Linked DNA regions of Homo sapiens: region 2 is linked to region 1. The links come from fine-mapping of genetic effects on gene expression. A gene starts in region 1. The other region holds a variant in brackets. All regions are shown on one strand. Distances are from middle to middle. Region 1 holds the start of ZNF337 (zinc finger protein 337). Region 2 has its middle 42 kb from the start of LINC01733.

Region 1 (2,914 bases):
TGGAGATATACCAGCTTTTTGGGAGGAACCCGTGTATATCTTTCTCTTATTGATTTATGATTTTCTTTTTGGAGGCAGGATCTCGCTGTGTTACCCAGGCTAGCGTGCAGTGCAGCCAACATAGCTGGTTACAGCCTCCACCTCCTGGACTCAACTGACTGGGCCTCCCAAGTAGCTGAGGCCACAGGCATGGGACACCACGCCCCGCTAATTTTTTTATTTTTCTAATTTCATGTAGAGACAGGGTCTTGCTGTGCTGCCCAGGCTGCTCTGGAACTCCTGGCCTCCCAAAGTGCTGGGACTACAGGCATGAGCCACACTGCTCAGCCTGATTTATGACTTTACCTGAAATTCCTGTCTCCCTGAATTGTATAAAATTAACCTGCAAGCCTGACCATCTCGGGCACTTTCACAGGACCTCTTGAGGCTGAATAACCTGGGCCACAGTCACTCATACTGACTAGGAATAAACCTTTTTAAATATATTTTGGCAGAACCCGGATTTTGCCGTCATTAGCAAGGCCCCAGGGAAGAGGCCACCTGGGTCCCCACAGCCACCTCACCTCCCGCGGACGCTGCCCCACGCAGATCCCCCCCCCCCCCCACCAAAACACGTCTAGACGTGCCCGTGCGAGGACATTTGGTCCCGGCCTACACTCCTATCCGCGGAAGATCGTCCCAAGGCGGGGTGCTCCCAACCCAAAGCAGCGGCCCTTCCCCAAAACACGCGGGCGAAGTCCTCCCCTGTCCCGCCTCCCACAATAAAGTCTGGAGCATCAGAGTCGGAGGGAACCCGAGTCGGACCTAGCCCATCCGTCTCATGGCTGTAACCCCCACCCCACCAGTGGACCCTGGCTGTGGCCGAGTCCCCCTCCACCTCCGGCCAAAAGACCCCCGTGGCAGCTCGCTAGGCCGCTGGCCCGTCCCCACCCGAGGAGCGGCGACCCTGGCACAAGAGGACCTGGGTTGCTCGGCGCCCCTGTGAAATCCGGGCTGTTCACCGCCCGAGCCGCCACTACACGCAACCGGGAACGGAGACTGAGTGGCGGCCCAGACCCGGGGCGCTCGGCAAGCCGCAGCCCCACCGCCCACTTCAAGGCGCGGCCTGGGTCTCCGCCCCTCCCCAGAACGCGGAGACGCCGGGCCTGGAGGAGCGCGCGCTACGGCCCCAGCAGCGCCCTCACGTCCCAGGCCTTCCCGGCCCTTCTTCCTGCGCCGGAAGGGCGCGCTGCAGAGAGGGACCCGCAGGAGCGCAGCTCACCGGGGCGGCTGAGGGCGAACCGAGGCGGTGAGGTCACCGATGGTGGACCACGCATCTCACGGCTCGCTGACGCCCAGGGATCTGGAACGCTCTGCGCCGCCCGGGACTACACTACCCAGAATCCTCAGCGCGGCCGGGACTACGCTACCCAGCATCCTCGGCGCGGCCCGGAGGCTATGCGACCCTGCGCGTCGCATCCCCTCGGTGGACTACACTCCCCAGAGTCCTCGGGAGTCGTCCAGGTACACGCCCCAGAATATTGGTCATAGCGGTCCACCCGGGACTGCGCGACCCGGAATCCTTGGAAGGACTTCTCGGAAGGACTCCTCTCTGACAGGTGGGGCGAGCCTATGGTCGTTTGGACGTGGAGGGATCCTTTCAGAACCGGCGATTTCTTTTATTTAGGTAGCCCTATACATACATTAAGCATATTTTCCCATTTCTATGATATAGGTAAATAATTTTCCCACTGTCTTTTGATTATGGGTATGTCTTTTTTTTTTCTTTTGTTTCTTTTTTTTGCTATGTAGTACTTTTGATCTCTGATTTTCCTACGGATTTTGTGGTTTTATCATTCACATTTAGATCTCTCAATGGTTTAATTTTTCTCCAGGTACACACTGTAAATATACAATTATTTTTAAAATTTTCTAATATTTTATTAATTTCCCATTAAATTTATTAAAAATATAGTCTTTTACCAAATAATTTAAGGTTTCAGCTACATAATTCAGTATACTCAATTTACATTTGCATTTCAATTTCTAATTGTTCCCCCATTTATCTAATTATGCATCAATGCCAGAATTCTTTCATTATGTAGGGTGTATAATATGCTGATATCTTTTGTGGCTTGCCAAACCACGTAGACTTTATATTTCAGGCCTTTACTAGGTATACTTGCTGTTTGCTTTTTCTCTTTTGGTTTTTAAATTTTTAATTATTCTGGATAAATATTAGTTGTACATATTTATAGGGTACATGTTATGTTTTGATACAGGCATACAGTGTTTAATGGTCAAATGAGGGTGATTGGGGTATCCATCCCCTCAAGCATTTAGCATTTCTTTGTTTTAGGAAGTTTCCAATTCTCTCTTATTTTTAAATATATAGTAAAATTGTTCTTAACTATAGTCACTGTATAGTGCTACCAACTACTAGATCTTATTCATTCTAACTGTATTTTTGTATCGATTAACAAGTCCCTCTTTATCTCCTCTACCCACCATCCTTCCCAGCCTCTGTTAACTATCTCATTCTACTCTCCATCTCCATGAGTTCACGTTTTTAGCCCCACAAATGAGTGAGCACATGTGATATTTGTCATGCTGTGCCTCATTTCGCTTAACATAATGTCCTCCATTTTCATACATGCTATTGAAAATGACAGAATTTCATTCTTTTAATGACTGGCTAATATCCCATTGTGTTAATGTACCACACTTTCCTTATCCATTCATCTGTTGATAGACACTTTGATTCTATATCTTTACTATTTTGGATAGTGCTGTAGTAAACATGAGAGTGCAGATATATCCTTGAAATACTGATTTCCTTTCTTTTGGATATATACTCAGCAGTGGGATTGCGGGATCATGTATATATTTATTAATTCTTTTGAGGAACCTCCATACTGCTCTCCATAGTGGTTGT
Region 2 (2,914 bases), 300 kb after region 1:
GCAATGGATGTGTAAAATGGTCAACATGGTATTCCATGAACGTATCCTCTTATAAATAGGTCTGTGGGGGTAAGAGATGAGGTTCTATAGATCCTGGAATCAGGGATGGGGAATCTGTGGGGTCCCTGGGGTGAGAGATGAGGGTCTGTAGATTAGTGATGGGTGGTCTTTTGGATAGTGATGAGATCCATGGAATCAATTCTTGTGGGTATGTAGGGTCAGTGATGAGGGAATCTGGTGTCAGTGGCGGGATGTGTGTGGAATCAGTGAGAGAGTGTGGAATCAATCTGTGAAGGCCAGATTTGTGGTGTCATCTCTCAGGCTGACACATCCTGACCTGTGTGACAATGGTGGAAATTCTATGGGGTCAGAGTGTGACAGTCAGTTCCTTGCCACTGGGTGTTCTGGGTCCGGCCAAGGGCACAGATTCCCTTACCTGATCCTGGCTGGAGAGGCCCTTCTCACGGACTCCTCATGTGAAAGATGGGTTGTCGGCGGTTTTGGTTTTTGTTTTATGGTGGGGGTGGGTGGGTTGGCTTTTCCTTTTGGGTTTGGTTTTGCCTCTTAGAGACCACAGACACATCCAGCTTTTAGGAAGACATTTTTGTCTGGGCGATCGCTAGTTCCTTTGGGCCAAGCCATCTAATGGGAATGAAGCTGACCATTCCCTCAGCGCAATTCAGATCTAGATGGTCGCTTTAAGGGGTCCACTCGGGGGCATGCAAGTGGGTTGTGGCTTTGAGTGGCAGGTGGGCGGGAAGAAACAACTAAGAAAGACACACGAGAGGTCCTCAGGCTTGATCTGTCACAGCTAGAAGAACAGCTTCCTTAACCCATCAGGCGCCAATGGGAGGTGCCTCTGGGCTGCAAGAGGCTGGCAGAGGGGGACTTCCAGACCCAGAAAGTCTGGGCACAGAAGCCTATTACTGCCAGACGCTGAGGAGTTGCCGTGGGAACCAAGGGCCTTTCGGGCCAGATCAGAGCCTTTCTCAGACAATTCTTTGGGTAACTGGCAAGCTCCTGTCCAGCGCACACCCCTATGAATGCTTAGTGTGCCATCTCGGGCAAGTCTTCTTTGGTCTGAGAGCCACTTGTTTCTTAAATCCCTGCGCTAATCTCGCCGTCTGCTCCTATGTAGCCCAGGCATTTGCCGCATGCTGGTCCTTTCTTTCCTGACAGGCGGGCAGTCTCCCTCCAGCTTCTGGGAGGACAGTTCAAATTATGGAGGAGGGGGTGCATGTAGGGCAGCAGTGCCCAGGGGAGTATGGGGGAGTTGGGGGAGCAGAGGCTCATTTTTCTTTATAGCTCAGATTCCCAAGCCTGTGACTTTGAGAATCTTTGTCTTCCTTGCAACATTTCAATCTGAGGCTCTTGTGGAGAGGGCAGAGTTGGAGCCAGATGGAAGAGTGGTGGGAGAGGAGTGGGTGGAGGGAACATGGAGAATGTTTCAGGTGGTGTCTTTATTTCTGGCACCTTACTTTGCCTACTGGAGTTTCCCAGTCTGTTCCAGACGC[C/A]CTCTCTAGACCCTGAGAGGGCCTGAGGAGGCATGTTAGTTGCCAGTGTGGTGGAGATGGAGTGCCGGGAGGTGGAGGTTGCAGTGAGCCAAGATCACGCCACTGCACTCCAGGCTGGGTGACACAGCGAGTCTCTGTCTCAATAAATAAATAAATAAATAAACAAACAAATGGAAGGGAAAAAACACAATATAAAAACCAAGTGATTCTAAAAGTAACAATATATCATAATGCCTAAATATGTGTAATTGGTGGGGCATGGTGGCTCCGATTATCATAATGCCTAAATTTGTGGGATTGGTGGGGTGTGATGGCTCCCACCTGTAATCCTAGCACTTTGAGAGGCTGGTGGATCACCTGAAGTCAGGAGTTTGAGACCAGCCTGACCAACATTGTGAAACCCTGTCCCTACTAAAAATAGAAAAAAATTAGCCAGGTGTTGTGGCGGACACCTGAAGTCCGAGCTACTAGGGAGGCTGAGGCAGGAGAATCACTTGAACCCAGGAGCAGAGGTTGTAGTGAGCCGAGATTGCCCCATTGCACTCCACCCTGGGTGACAGTGTGAGACTCCCTCAAAAAAAAAAGTTTGTGGGACCAATTCCAATCGAGTCCAGGGGTCTCAGTTGGCCAAGGCAGTCTCAAACTTCTGACCCCAAGTGATCTTCCTGTTTCGGCCTCCCAAAGTGCTGGGATTATAGGCGTGAGCCACCATGCCCAGCCTCCCCTCCTTTTCACTCAGGGATTTTAAATGTTTTATTTGCTCCATCTGTTATGTATGATTGCCTTGACGATTTCAGCTTGAATTAAAATTACATATTTTTGCCTGTGTTTATTAATATTTAAACATATTAAAATAATACATGTTCATAATGAAAATGAAACATTACAAATAAATACACAGGAAAGGCAGTATTCCCCTTCCAGCTCCACTCTTGAAATAACCAGTTAACAAGATGATGAACATCTTTCCATGATGTTCTCCAAGATTCATATAATTATTTGCAATCATACAATGGCATATACAGCTCAGGTGTGGTGGCTCACGCATGTAATTCCAGCACTTTGGGAGACTGAACCGGGTGGATCATTTGAGGTCAGGAGTTCAAGACTACCCTGACCAACATAGTGAAACCCCATCACTACAAAAAACACAAAAATTATCTGGGCGTGGTGGACGCTTGTATTCCAAGCTACTTGGGAGGTGGAGGCATGAGAATCACTTGAACCTGGGAGATGAAAGTTACAGGGAGCCGAAATTGCATTACTTCACTCCCACCTGGGCGACAGAGTGAGATTCCATCTCAATAAATAAATAAATAAATAAAGATAAAGAAAGAAAGAAAAAAAGAAAGATGAAAGAAACAAAGAAAAAAGGAAGAAAGAGAGAAAAAGACAGAGAA

Evidence for each region. PIP is the estimated chance that this variant, and not a neighbour inherited with it, causes the effect. A credible set is the group of variants that fine-mapping cannot tell apart.
Region 2: its variant is the best candidate, but not a certain one, in a credible set for the expression of ZNF337 in whole blood (TOPMed, PIP 0.63).

Annotation. Positions count from the first base shown.
Region 1 is chr20:25,695,498-25,698,411 of GRCh38, forward strand. ZNF337 (zinc finger protein 337) reads right to left here and starts at 1,356. Exons shown (of 5, transcript NM_015655.4): 1 at 1,262-1,356. It overlaps LOC107985400 (a long non-coding RNA gene), which reads left to right and starts at 1,544. Exons shown (of 2, transcript XR_007067557.1): 1 at 1,544-1,666. RefSeq lists an enhancer at 760-869.
Region 2 is chr20:25,996,699-25,999,612 of GRCh38, forward strand. No RefSeq gene overlaps it. Among named protein-coding and RNA genes, the nearest start is that of LINC01733, 42 kb to the left of the region's middle. RefSeq lists a silencer at 2,675-2,859. The variant C/A (reference allele first, on the strand shown) is at 1,515.